2 linked regions of the Homo sapiens genome follow. The protein of the gene in region 2 purifies or fractionates together with the protein of the main gene of each other region. This does not show direct contact. Each region holds a gene or a part of one and is shown on either strand. Other genes may lie near its edges.

What was found. The genes of interacting proteins can lie anywhere in the genome.
Region 1: the proteins of CARD11 (region 2) and MALT1 purify together in Homo sapiens (affinity purification with western blotting; 6 studies listed by BioGRID and IntAct, with this or other methods). This does not show direct contact.

Annotation. Positions count from the first base shown.
Region 1 is NC_000018.10:58,666,762-58,674,468, reverse strand, and holds the start of MALT1 (mucosa-associated lymphoid tissue lymphoma translocation protein 1), read right to left. Parts: upstream 3,005-7,707; 5' UTR 2,826-3,004; coding exon 2,617-2,825; exon of another isoform or gene 2,596-2,616; intron 1,857-2,595; exon of another isoform or gene 1,610-1,856; intron 1-1,609. UniProt on the Homo sapiens protein: Protease that enhances BCL10-induced activation: acts via formation of CBM complexes that channel adaptive and innate immune signaling downstream of CARD domain-containing proteins (CARD9, CARD11 and CARD14) to activate NF-kappa-B and MAP kinase p38 pathways which stimulate expression of genes encoding pro-inflammatory cytokines and chemokines.
Region 2 is NC_000007.14:2,942,868-2,949,892, forward strand, and holds part of CARD11 (caspase recruitment domain-containing protein 11), read right to left. Parts: intron 4,921-7,025; coding exon 4,708-4,920; intron 4,221-4,707; exon of another isoform or gene 3,730-4,220; intron 3,090-3,729; coding exon 2,952-3,089; intron 1,671-2,951; coding exon 1,345-1,670; exon of another isoform or gene 1,168-1,344; intron 1-1,167. UniProt on the Homo sapiens protein: Adapter protein that plays a key role in adaptive immune response by transducing the activation of NF-kappa-B downstream of T-cell receptor (TCR) and B-cell receptor (BCR) engagement.

The DNA of each region.
Region 1 (7,707 bases), on a different chromosome or scaffold from region 2:
ATCTTTACCATCTTGAAAGACAGGTGAAACTCATCTGCCTCTCATCAGACTTCCCACCCCAAATTCTCAGATTCCACAACTGCATGCCCTTTGTGCTTGCCACCTCTTGTTAGGCAACTGTCCCCTTCTCTCTGTGTGACTCCACAGAAAAGTGGCCTCAAATATTTCCTTTAGTTCCCCCAAACAAAGCTAAGACCATTTTGTAGCCTTTAACAAAAACTGACTGAAGGCAGGCGAGGAAAACACAACACCCAACATCAAGTATCCGCTGCTTTTGGATTCCAGCAGCCACGCTTCTTCCCTGGCAGGGCCTTGCTGACTTTCTTCTCTCTCCTTCATGGCCATGTAGGAGTCCTCCATACCTGGCTTTCTTCAGGAAGCCCAGAACCTTCCCTAACCAGAGTACTCGTTAGCACCGTAATACTCTGGAGATCTGCCCCCAAAGACAATTTTTTACATTATGGTAAGTCCAGAAATTCAAAATTTTATGTACCTAGCATAACAATATTTTGTATTTGTTTTTTTTGCATATCCAAAAGCCCAACGTGTTTTTCCTAGAACAGAAAAAAATTATGCCACTTCTCTGCTAGGCCTTGCTAGTTATTCCCTCCTCACATCATTACTCCTTTGCACAAGCAATAATCCCAAGTCACTATTATCCTTTGCCTCAATCCCAAACTCTGAAACAAGAGTTGTCAGGAGGGTTTAAGAAAATAATGTGGCCAGGCAGGGTAGCTCATGCCTGTAATCCCAGTACTTTGGAAGACTGAGGCGGCTGGATCACCTTAGGTCAAGACCAGCCTGGCTAACACAGCAAAACCCCGTCTTTACTAAAAATACAAAAAAATTAGCGGGCTGTAGTGGCGCACGCCTGTAATCCCAGCTACTCAGGAGGCTGAGGCAGGAGAATTGCTTGAACCTGGGAGGCGGAGGTTGTAGTGAGCCACGATCACACCACTGCACTCCAGCCTGGGCGAAAGAGCAAGACTCCATCTCGGAAAAAAAAAAGATAATGCAAAAATAAGAAGAATAAAGAAGAATGAAGCAGCAGCAGCAGCATGTAAACATTTAGTATATTTTGTGGTACATACCATGTCCTCAATAAAAGATAAAAATCCATTATCATTCATACCCAACACAGCATTTAATATGTTATTGTAAAGGTCCCCAAATAATAGTCCATTCCTGGATAAACCCTTATGATTAGGAATTGAATATTTGTTAGTTTTTTATCTTCTAAAATTTCTAGCAAATAATAAGCACTTAATAAATACCATTTTGAATGAATGACTTTCCTCTCATCAAGTATTTACTAACCTCTATACATAACAGAATATTAAGAGACAGTTTTTGTTCTTAAGGCATTTATAAAGATGTGTACAAATAATTATACTGTAAGACAAATCTTTGTCATTTGAGAAGTTCAAAAAACTGCTAAGGGGTTCAAAGGCAGGCCAAAGTTACAACAATGGTATAAAGTAATGGTTCTAAGTGGGGTCTGGGAACCCCTAGTGCAGTTCCTGAGACCCTTTCGCGGGGTCCACAAGGTCATAAAGATTTTTCATAACAATATTAAGACTTTATTTAGCTTTTTCATTCATTCTTTCAGGAGTGGACACTGCAGTTTCCAGCGTTCTGTGACCTGTAATAGTGCGACAGACTGAATGCAGAAGCACATAAACGAATCCAGCTCTGTGATTAAGCCAAGACATTAAAGAGATCTTCAAAATGAAAACCAATGCCACTTCTCTAATAGACTTTTTTGTTTTGGAAAATTTGTTTTTCCACGAAAGTATTATTTCTGTTACCATATAATGGGTTATTCTTTTTAAATAAATTAATATTTTTTAAATGTCTTAGCTTTAATTTCAAAGGTGGTAAATATCAGTATGTATTACATGTATGTATTATCTCTAACCCACATAAGAGCTCTCTGGGGTCCTCAATAATTCTTAAGAGGGTAAAGGAGTCTCGAGACCAAAACTTCAGGAACCCTAATACAGCCATTCCAAACCTAACAAGGAAAATAGTTTTACTTCGAGTTTCATGTTCATGGTGAAGTCAAGAAGAGAACGTGGTAACCTGGTTTGATGGAGGGAGATGATGAGTTCGGCGTCAGTCTTTCCCAATACCTTGCAAAATGTTCATGAATTCCTGCACCCCACCCTCTGCATTCATCACCTCGCCTGCGCTTCTTCCCAGCCTTCCTTAGGTCTCCCAGAGCAGTGTCCACATCCCTTTCTTTTGCATTTTAAGTCCTCTGGATGACTGCCCCATCCTAGGGGTCCCCTGACAGCTTTCCTTCTCTCACTATCCTCCGGGGTCAACCTCGACTTCTCCCTTTCACCAGGGGCGGGGGTGGGAACAGGGAGCGAGGCAGCCGCTGGGCCACTTTTGCCTCCACCCTCCAGAGCCCTGGGCCCCGCTCTCAAACCCCAGGCGTTCCGGGGAGCTGCTGAGTTCCGCTCCGCCTCAATGACCGAAGTCCTCCCCACCTCCGCTCACTCACGCCGGCGGCCCCCGCCGCGCTCAGCCCCACCGACAGCGCCCCCACCTCCCCACCGCAGCCCACCCCGCTCGACCCGCGCGCCCGGCCTGCCGCGGCCCTGAGCTCACCTGAGGCGGAGGCGCCCGCGACTCCCCGCCAGCTCCGCCAGTCTCCTCCAGCCCCGGCCCTCGGGCGCCTGATCCAGGAGCTCGCTGAGCCTCCGCAGCAGCGGCTCCCGCAGGCGGTTGAGGGTCGCGCCGGCCGGAGGGGCGAGCAGCGGCCCCGTGGGGGCGGCCGAGGGCGGCAGGGCCTGTAGCGGGTCCCCCAACAGCGACATGGCCCTCGCCGGCGACCCCGGACTGCCGGGGCTCCCGCCCGCCCCGTCACGGGCCTCGGCCCCGGGGCACCTTCCGCTCGCCTCCGAGCCGCGGAGGCAGGGGCGGAAGAACAAATCTGGCAGCGCGGCACGGCCCTCAGAGGAGGAAGCTCCGCTCCCCGCCCCAATTAGACAGGTTTGCCGAGGGGAGCCTGGCCTGCTGGCCGCGCCAGCCGCGCAAAGGGGCGGGGCACCCGGGGGGCGGGGCACGGAGCCTCGAGGGGCGGGACCTTGGGCCTCGAGGGGCGGGGCGGGGCTGCCTACTGCGTGCGTGCGGCTGCGCGCCTCCCTCGCCCTCCCCCGCGGTCCCGGGCTGGCCGTGGCGCGCGCTTCAAACCCAGCCCTCCCGAGCAGGAAAGGACGGGTGGGTGCAGCTGGAGGAGGAAGCGGTGGAGGAATTACGCCCCGGCAGCTCCTCTACGGCGGGGAAGCCTGCGGCGTCTGGGCTTCCTGAGACCGTGGGAGGAGGCCTGCGTACTCACGCCAGAGAGCGGGGCAAGCGGTTCTCAGTCGCCGGCTCCCGCCCGCAGTCCCCGGCGAGCGCTCTCCCCTGACTCAGGGACTTTCATGTGCCCGGCGACACACCAGCATCCTGCAGTGGGCAACCTCAGCGGACGCTTCCTCGTTTTAGGGTTAGATGTGTATGGCATTGCTAGAGGGAAGTAGTGCTGGAGATCCGGATACTTGAGTTGGAATTGGCCAAAATCTTTGCCTAGACTTTTAAACAATTACTACTTTGCAAACTGAGCTGTGGCATATTTAGGGCTAATCAGATCTTGGAAATGATTGTTTTTAGCAGGAATCATCTGGTTTACACCGCGTCAGACTGCCGCCCGCAATCTCCGTCATCAAAGCAGGCAACCCTGTAGAGGATGCCTTTCCCTGGAATGATCCGGAATGGACGACACCTGAGCTCTCTCTGCCAATCTTAGCAACATCCAAGGCCATTATCCCTTTGAAAACTATGGCTTCGTTTGGGACAAAAAGGAAGTAACTTACGAAATGTGACCAGTCAGGTAGTTCCCTACACGAGGCTTCCTGGCCCAATTTCTGTTGCCATTAGCTTTTCATCACCCAAGGCCGCAGGATTTTCTGACCAGTAATTTGGATACCTATATTCTTATACATGTTGGCGAGGTAGGTGCGCCATACAGTCTCCACCACATTCTAGCACAAGCAGTCATTAAACTTCACTCTAGCATAAGTTAAGAATTCAGACTGCAGTGAGATGGCTAAGAGCATGAAAGATCTGCTCGATTCAAGTGTTAGGAGCTTGAATAAGTTTCTTAATTTCTCTGCCTCATCTATTAACACAGGACTGACAATACAGTTTATATAGAGTTGTTGCCAGAATTAAAGGAGTTGATGTATGTGAAGCACTTAACTCGGTAACTGGCACATCGTAGATGACTCAGTAAATGCTATTACCCTTACACATACAAGTGCCGTTTCATACTCAGTTTGACTTGGCAAGCCTTTCCCAACCGCTTCAGGTGCCTTCCTGTTTTGTCCTCAATTACTGTACAAATATTTTCTGAGGATCTGTTACCTGCATGTGCCAATTATGGAAATAAAATCTTCTAGTCTTTACTGGAATCCTGCCTTTTAATTTAAATTCAACAGAGGTCTTCTAAATTTAGACTTCTTAGAAAAGTCTGCCATGTACAAAGCGTTGCTTATGCAACCTCTCGTGTGCATACGAGTTAAATGGGTGCCAGTGTTATTTACTCTTAGCCAATATAGCTCAGCTGGGCACTGTTTTGACCTCGAGTTGTACGCCCCCACCCTGGCTTCCCAAGTGACTGCCTCCCTCGTTTTACCCTACTCCCAACCTTTTTTTCCACCTAGCAATTTTATACCCTATCCAGTCACTACCCGCCACCCTCCATCCTCTACCCAAACTGACATTACCTTTTTTGACTGGTCTTTTTCTCTCCTCAATCAAATGTTAATATTTCTATGACATAATTTCACTCCTGTGGTTCTCTTATGGGCATAATGGTATAGTAGAATGTGACCTTTAAAGTTAGTCCTGAATTGGAAACTTGATGTTGCTGCCACTTACTAGTCTAGTGGTGGAACTTAGGTGATCTACTTAACCTCTCTGAGCTTCAGTTTCCACACCTGTAAAAAGTGGAAAATAATAGTACCTAATAGTGTTATATAGCGTCAGGGAGAAGTATGTGCATTGTATATTAGTACTCTTAAAACTGCTACATCAATTTTGGGAACAATGTAAATAGTAATTCAGCTTTCTTTTCTATATTAACCGTTATGTTTATATAAAGATAGGAGAAAAATTGGGGGTAAAGATCTGGCTTTTAAATGTCCCTTAAAAGTTCATGCATGTCTATAGATAATAGCCTTGGGAGTTCTTCCTCATTAGTTCAAAGTGAAATAGATCTTTGTAAATCCAGACAATTGGCAGGAAGCTTGTGGTTTCAATATATGGAACTCCATTGATGTAATCTTCAAAGCACTCATAGGTCTGGAAACTGACTCATAGGATTTTTTTCCTTTATACAGTTTAACTATAGATGGTACTCCAACTAAAAAAAAAAAAAACGCCAGAATGATATATTATTTCACAGTTGGACAGGGTTTAAAAGACTCAGTGCAGGAGAAAACCTGCTGGTCCTTGGATCTGTATACAATGGAGGGAAAGGAAGCAGGAGTTATGTGGCTTAAATGGCATTCATGGCCGAGCGTGGTGGCTCACACCTGTAATCCCAACACTTTGGGAGGCTGAGGCGGGCAGATCACGAGGTCAGGAGTTCAAGACCAGCCTGGCCAACATGGTGAAACCCCATCTCTACTAAAGATACACCAAAAAAAATTAGCCAGGCGTGGTGGCACGCGCCTGTATTCCCAGCTACTTGGGAGGCTGAGGCAGGAGAATCACTTGAACCCAGGGGGCGGAGGTTGCAGTGAGCTGAGATTGTGCCACTGCAGTCCAGTGTGGGCAACAGGGCAAGACTCTGTCTAAAAAAAAAAAAAAGGCATTCATTGTCTGCCATCCCTTATTCCATGCTCAGCCCACTTTGTGACCTCTCTGACTCAGCCTCTGTAGGAGCCACTCAGGTGACCCACAGACACAGGCTCAGCACATCCCCTGCAGCCCATTCTTGCCACCATCTTCCAAAGGATTAGGGAAATTTTCTCATTTCGATTTCAACTTTGTAATAGTAGCTAGGCATCATGCTAGTATTCCACACTCTTCCTTCATGATGAATCATCCAGACCTAAATATTTGATCCTGACCATGGAAAGTCTACACCTACTTGTCTAAATTGATTCATTCACTCAATCATTCATTCCGTCATGAACACATATTCTTGGGGCACCAGGCTCTGTATCAAATACATACTGTTAAAGAATAGTTTTTATTTGATTAATTTATTTATTTTGAGACGGAGTTATGCTCTTGTTGCCCAGGCTGGAGTGCAATGGCACGATCTCGGCTCACGGCAACCTCCACCTCCCAGGTTCAAGTGATTCTCCTGTCTCAGCCTCCTGAGTAGCTGGGATTACAGGTGCACACCACCACGCCCAGCTAATATTTTGTATTTTTAGTAGAGACGGGTTTCACCATGTTGCCCAGGCTGCTCTTGAACTCCTGACCTCAGGTGATTCACCCATGTCGGCCCTCCCAAAGTGCTGGGATTACAGGCATGAGCCACCGCGTCCGGTCTTAAGAATAGTTTCTACAAGAAAGTTTAAATCATGATGCAACAAATATGCAATGAACACATATCAGAGATTTTAACTCATTAACTAACAAGGGAATCAGAAAGGTGTTACAATTACTTCAGAGGAGAACCCAAAGACCAGATAAATATGTCAGCCCACTGAAATGAAGTTGCTTCCTAGATGCAAAACTAGCTTCTTCCACAGTGGAGGAGGGAATGCAATTGAACCTCCACCTGACAATTTATTTAATTATAAACAAGATTCACTTGCATCACTATCAGTTTTCTGTAAGTTCACTGCGATCTCAGAGTTGTAAAGTAGCCTAGTCATGAGACAAAGATAAAGACAACCCAGGCAGATGAGCTAGGCGGGATTCCCACACCACAGTTCGGTCTTCACCAGTTTTCCCTTAGAGTTTGCAGAATACAATGTTGACCAAACCCGATGTCTGCTTAAGACAAGGAACAGGAGGAGTAAGTGCTCTGTTGATAGCAAGAAGTATACAAATCCAGGGGAGAGCCCTTCAGTCCATGTGGAAAGATGAGAGGAGATGGCTTGGGAAACAGGGTAGAAAGAATACCATACTGTAGGCTGGCCGCAGTGGCTCACACCTGTAATCTCAGCACTTTGGGAGGCCAAGGCGGGTGGATCACGAGGTCAGGAGTTCAAGACCAGCCTGACCAACATGGTGAAACCCTGTCTCTACTAAAAATACAAAAATTAGCCGGGCATGGTGGCAGGCAGCTGTAATCCCAGCTACTCGGGAGGCTGAGTAAGAATTGCTTGAACCCGGGAGGTGGAGGTTGCAGTGAGCCGAGGTCGTGCCACTGCACTCCAGCCTGGGTGAGAAAGCGAGACTCCGTCTCCAAAAAAAAAAAAAAAAAAAAAAGAATACCATACTATAAAAGCACAGAGCCAGAAAACATCACAGCAAGGTTGGAGAACTGCAGTTGCTCCAGGAGAGCTGGGGATACTGATGGGAAAGGGACAGAGACCACGATGTAAAAGGCAGTGAAGACCAGATTATGTCATGCCAAAAGCTGAGATTTTATTCTGTAGATACATACCTACCACAGAGCCATCTATGCCCCACTGGTGTTATACAAGATGCTTTTAAGTCATAACATGGATGAACATTTTTATCTTAATAGTT
Region 2 (7,025 bases):
TCATCCCTTCAGATCTCTCTTCATGTGTCTCCTTCTCAGAGACCTTTCCTGGACACCCTAGTTAAAGTAGCAATCCTCATGTTCTGTCCTCACGCCCTGTCTTCTCTTCTTGATAGCACTCATTTCTACCAAGTATCTATGCATTTGTTTTCTGATTACAATGTTAGTTCCACGACAGAAGGGTTTTAGTCTTCAGCTATGTATCCCTGGAAAAGAGCCTGGGGGCCAGGTGTGGTGGCTTATACCTGTAATCCCAGCACTTTGGGAGGCCAAGTGTGCAGATTGCCCGAGCCCAGGAGTTCAAGACCAGCCTGGGCAACATGGTGAAACCCTGTCTTTACTAAAAATAGAAAAAGGGGGGTGGGTAGGATAAAAATAGAAAAAAATTAGCTGGCATAGCATGTACCTGTAGTCCCAGCTACTTGGGAGGCTAAGGTGGGAGGATCACCTGAGCCTGCAAGGCCAAAGCTACAGTGAGCTGTGATCACACCACTGCACTCCAGCCTGGGTGACAGAGTGAGACTCTGTCCAAAAAACTCCTCCAAAAAACCCAAAAACAAAAAGCCTGGTACCCGATGGAACTCAATAAACAGAAAGAATGAACGAGGCCGGGTGCAGTGGCTCATACCTGTAATCCCACCACTTTGTAAGGCCAAGGGAGGCAGATCACTTGAGCCCAGGAGTTGCAGATCAGCCTGGGCAAAATAGCGAGACCCCTTTTCTACAAAAAAATTGAAAGAATAGCCTGGCGTGATGGTGGGCACCTGTAGTCCCAGCTACTTTGGAGGCTGAGACAGGAGGATCACTTGAGTCTAGGAGGTCAAGGCTTCAGTGAGCCATGATCACACCACTGCAGCCTGGGCAGTGGAAGACCCTGTCTCAAAAAAAAAAAAAAAAAAAAAAAAAAAAAAGAAAAGAAAAAGAAAGAAAGAAAAGAAGGAAAGGAAAATAAAAGAAAAGAAAAAAGAAGATGTAAATCTCCTTAATTCATTTGCGGAGTGAGCCATTCTGGGTCTGCATGCGCATGTGCAAGGTGGATCTGGGACTGAGCCGGTGGTGGAAAGCTGCGCACTGGGTCGGTCCTTGTGCGCATGTCTGCCCATGCGCACAGGGGATGTAGGCCGCTTACCCGGTAGCGCTAAGCACTATGGGTACACGTGCAGGTGCATAGTGGACCTAGAACTCCCAGAGGCCCTGTGTCCTCCATTCCCCCACACCTGGCTGGCAGGAAGCTCCGGCAGACCACGTGCATGTGCCTGCACCTGCTTTATGGGAGAATTGAGCCCTGGTGACATTTGTTTCCCCCGGGTCACCCTGGCGGAGTAGCCCTTGGGCACCCCTCACCTCGAGTTGGAGGTCTCGGCTCCTCATGACCGCCATGTTCTTCTCCTCACTGAGCTGTGCGTAGCGCATGGCTAAGTTGTAGTTGTCGTCCTTCACCTTGACCAGCTCGTCATTGTAGCTGTCCCGCTCTTCCTTCATCTTGTAGTACCGCTCCTGGAAGGTTAGCAGCTCCACGCGCGTCAGCGTCATCTGCTTCTTCTCATCCTCCAGCTGCCGCAACCTGGCCAGCAGCTCGCAGCGTTGCAGGTCCTTGGCCTTCATCTGCTGCTGCAGCTTGATGACCTCGTTCATCAGGAAGTGCGTGAGGCCCTCGTGGCCTTCCTCCACTGTGGAGAGGGGGCACCCAGTCAGGCCTGAGGACTGGGAAGTGGAAAAAGGAGGTTCCAGACGCAGGGCAGGTGCCATTCATTCACTCACTCACCAACGTTGTGCCAAGCTCTTTACTCACTCTGCCCACGAGGCACTGGGGATTCAGAGTGAGCGAGACTCACAGCCTTGGCCCCGGGAGAGCTTAGGGTGTAATAAGAGAAACACATTTAAAAAAATCAAATGATACCACAAATAGAATTACAGACCGTGAGGATTTCACAAAGTAAAGGTAGATGGGGCTATGAGAGTGTGTAGCAGGGGCCCAGATCCAGCCTTGTGGGCAGAGGGGGTTGGAGAAGGCTCCTGATGGTTGAGGTAAAATGTTAAGTTCGGGTGGGAAAAGGCATTCTAGGAAAGGGGAACAACATTGCCAAGGCCATATGGGGAGGAGGGAGGAACTTGGCATATTTCAGGAACTGAACGAAGACCAAAGTGGCCGAAGGAGAGAGAGAGAAGAGAAAGGCGAGGCTGGTGGTGTCAGCAGGGACTGGATCATGAAGGGTCCTTGTGGGCTGCATTAAAGACCTGGGACTTTTTTTATATTTTAAAACAGGGTCTCGCTCTATTACCCAGGCTGGAGTGCAGGGGCATGATCATAGCTTATTGCAGCCTGGAACTCCTGGGCTCAAGCAATTCTATGGCTGCAGCCTCCAAAAGTGTTGGAATTTCAGGCATGAGCCACTGTGCCTGGCCAAGACCTGGGTCTTTACAAAGAAGCAATGAAAAACCACCAAAGGGTTTTAAATAGGGGAGGAAGAATGGAGAAAGCACTGGAACAGATCGGGAATGGATATGGAGAGTTAATGGGGTTGTGGGAGTCTGGACTGTGGGAAGTGTTGGGGCGGGCGAGAAGACTGATTCAAGAATGTTTAGAAAGGAAGATTAAGAAGGCAAGATGCTCAAGGGCTCTGGCCCATGAGACACTAGAAAGAATGCAGGCAAGGCAAGGACAAGATCTACGGGGTAGAATGAACTTGTGTTCCACCTGGCGCCATTCATGGGGGATGGTCCGTGAACACCCACTTCTCTTGGTTCCTGCTTCCCTTTGCCCCTGTTAACCTTTCATCATCAAGCAAAATAAGTGGTTGACAGACCCCAGTTCTATATGTCATAGATTCACAGCTTAAGAACCATGCCACTACTGAGGACACACACACACACACACACACACACAGACACACACACACACACGCCCCTCCTCTTAGAGTCCAGATGTTCCCAATGGCAAAAGCACTTACCCACAATGGTGGAGAATCTCCGAGTGGGCTCTTTCCCAGTCACCAGTTTGTACAGTTCTGGGTAATAAAATTCTAGGCTCTCCAAGAAGACCACATAGCCCCTTTGCCCCTTGGTATGTAGAATGTCCAACAGCCGGCCTAGGGGAAAGACCAGATCACTCTGTGAGAATACATATCTGATGGAACGCAAGTCTCTGTGGCTGGTCTCATCCTGGACTTGTGTCCTTCAATCAACTCTAAGAAGACAGTCTCCCCACATTCTATCACTTCTGAGTTGTATCTTGGAGCCCAGATGACGTAAATCAAGGTGCCAGGCCCTCCGCAGGGATTTGGTGAGCGTTAGTTTTCTGTTTCTAATAAACTGGTAGAACCAGGATAAATGGAATTGCCGCCCCAGTTTTGAAGAGTTTCCCAACTGACCAGGGCCAAAATGAACCACGTAGGCACCAGGTCTTCTATGACTGAAGGAGGTTGGAAGCACGATAAAAATTATGGAATAATATATGGTTCTCTGGGATTGAGAGCAGGAAGACAAATCTTTGGGTGAGAGGCTAGGAAAAATCATAGGAAGTAGGGATAGTTCTAGGTTTTTCTTTGGGATTATTACACAACCTGGAAACACCTTAAATGTAATTTCCCCAGCAGGTCCCAGTTTCTATACTATTGATTCCACTTATTGCTTACATTTCTGGGCCCTTCCTTAAACATTTTATTTTCAGATATTCTTCTGAGATATAGAAGAAGAAAGGTAGGTCTTAAAACTCGACCTTTTCCCTAGGACGGACAGAAGAAATAAATTTGATGGTATGTCAACCCCGATTGTTTGGTGAAGCCGCCTGCAGTACTGTTTCGAGAAACATTCCAAAGTTACATCCAAGCTCAGTGGGAAAGCATGCTGATTACTGATGTCTGCCATGGATGCCAGAGAGTCGCAGCTGATGAGCCACTTACCACCAGCCACGCTGGGGGACAGTGATTATCAAACCTTCTAAACTGATCCATAGAAAGAAAAACATTTAACATTGTGGTCTAGTGACCATAGACAAAGATAACTCTACAAGTACATGTGTATACACATGTACATAATGTAAAATTAAAACAAGCTTCACAAACCATATTTATTACCTTTACTGAATATGATAAACCCCCCCTCCAGAAGTCAGGCTAGAAAAGCTTGTGGAACCCTTCTCGGAATATTTTTAAACAGATAAAGTACATCAGATTACAAAAGAAACCAATTATAATAAAATCCAGTTATCAAATATTAAATAAATTTGTGTTTCAGTAACATACTTCTTTATTAATGCATTAAATAACAAGACCTCTCGGCAGGTCTAATAAGTACTGTAATTTTGAAAGAGAGATGAGTGTAAGTGGCATTTTGAGAGATTTGCAGTAACTGTAGTGATAGGAAGAGATCTGTAATTTTCATTGTTGCCTAAGTCACAAGAATTACTAATCACTCCTGTAATTTGTGGCTTCCTGACATTTGCAATTGAGGGCAATGCTGAATTGCAGTTGAGGTTGGTAAAATAAAGATGGCATTTCTTCCCCCCTCCCAGTTTATGGATCCTTTGAGTTCCATACACAGACAGCTTGAGTTCTATACACAAATGAGTAGGTGATGGACTGCGGACCCCAGTTTAAAAATCCCTGACCTAGAGCAACTTCATTTTGGTACAGCTACCAAAGGGTATGTCTGGAAGTTGCCGTGTGCGGTAGCCCTCCCTCTCCCGCAAAGAGGTCCTAAGGTTACCTGCTCGGTTGATCTTGGATGGCAGCATAGGGGCATTAAGCACTTCATCTTCATCCTGCTCATCAATGACCTTACACTGACGCAGGTAGGGCGTGAGCTTGGCAGGGTTGATATAGCGGCTGAGCATGTGCCGGTTACACTCCACATTCTCCCACAAGGCGTCCTCTTCATCCTTCAGCGTCTCCATGTAGTCATCCATCTCTGGCCCTCCTCCTTTTAGACATAAACCCCAACAAGCTTAATAAAGCAGTCTCACTGGAACAGCTCTATCAACTCCTCTGGAGTGACCTCTAGAATATATTAAGTTAAAAAAAAGTCCTGTACACTAAAGTATATATAGCATTTTACCTTTTGTCTAAGAAAGGGGTTATGAATATAAAAATATATATTTCCTTATATGCTAAACATAAACAATGGAAGTTTAAGCCATCAATTTTAAAAAAGATTATTTATAGGGCAGAGAGGGAAAATCCTGCGGTTGAGTCTACCCTTTCCATCCAAGTTTTTATGTCTTACTAAAAATGTATAGTTCCCTAAACAATATATACTATTGGCTTTTGTTTTAAAATTTCACATAAATGGTGTCATACTGTACGTTTCCTTTTTCAGCATGTTTTTCTCCCTCTACATTTTTTTTTGAGATTTATCTAGATGGATACATATAGATCTAAGTCATTCGTTTTTAAAAATAGCTTTATTGTGATGTAATTCACATAGCATACAAGTTACCTTTTTAATATGTTCAATTCAATGATTTTAGTATATTCACAGAGCTGTGCAACCACCACCACAATCAATTTAAAATCATTTCCGTCATTTCAAAAAGAAGCTCCTCACCCTTTATTAGCCACTCTCAATTTCCCTCTAATCCCTGCTCCTCCAGCCCTGTGTAACCACTCGTTCACCTTCTGTCTGTATAGATTTGTCTTTTCCGTACATTTTATACAAGTGAAATCCTACAATTTATGGTCTTTCATGTCTGGCTTCTTTCACTCAGCAACTTTTCAAGGTTTGTTCCTGTTGTAGCATGTATCAGGACTTCACTTATTTTAAATTGCTCAGTGATTTTTTCATTGCATGGACATGCCCCATTTTGCTTGTCTGTTCATCCACTAATGGACATTTGAGTTATTTCTACCTTTTGTCTATTATGAACAATGCTGCTATGAACATTCATGTAAAAGTTTTTGTGTGACTGTATGTTTTTATTTCCCTTGGGTAGATACGTAAGAGTGGATTGTTAGGCCATATGGCAACTCTATATTTAACATTTTGAGGAATTGCCAAATTGTTTTCCAAAGCAGCTGCATCATTTTACATTGCCACCAACAAGCCATGAGGGTTTTAATTCCTCCATATTCTTGCTAACAACTTGTTATTGTCTGTCTTTTTTATTACAGCTCTCCTACTGAGTGTGAAGTAGCATCTCATTGTGGTTTTGATTTGCATTTCCCTAATGACTAACGATGTTGAGCATCTTTTCATGTGCATATTGGCCATTTGTGTGCATTGAGAAATGTCTATTCAAATCCTTTGCCCATTTTAAAATTGTGTTGTTTGTCTTTTTATTATTGGGTTGTAGGATTTTGTTATGTATTCTGGATGCAAGCCACTTATCAGATATATGACTTGCAAATATTTTCTCCCACTCTGTCAGTTGTCTTTTCACTTTCTTAAAAGCATTGTTTGTAGCACAAAAGTTTCAAATTTTGAGGTAGTCCAATTTATTTATTTTTTCTTTTTTTCACTTGTGCTCTTGGCATGTATCCGAAACACCATTGTCTAACTCAAGATGATGAAGACTTACTCCTGTTTTTTGCCTTTGAATATTATACCTTAGTTCTTACATTGAGGATGATCCATTTTGAGTTAATTTTTGTGTATGGTGTGAGGTAGGGGTCCAGTTGCATTCTTTTATGTGTGGATGTCCAGTTGTCCAAGCACAGTTTGTTTGAAAAGACTACTCTTTCCCCATTGAATGATCTTGCTACCCTTGTTGACAATCAACTGACCATAAAAGTAAACATTTGTTTTTGCACTATTGATTCTATTCCATTGATCTATATGTGTATCCTTATGCCAGTACTACATTGTCTTGATTACCGAAGATTTGTAGATTTGTAGTAGGCCTTGAAATTGGGAGTATGGGTCTCCCAACCTTGTTCTTTTTCAAGATTGTTTTGGCTATTAGGTGCCTTTTACCTAATTTTAGGATTAGGATGTCAATTTCTGCAAAAAAGGCAGTTGGCATTTTGGTAGTGAATCTGCTGAATATGTAGATCAATTTGGAGAGTACTGCTACCTAACAATATTAAATC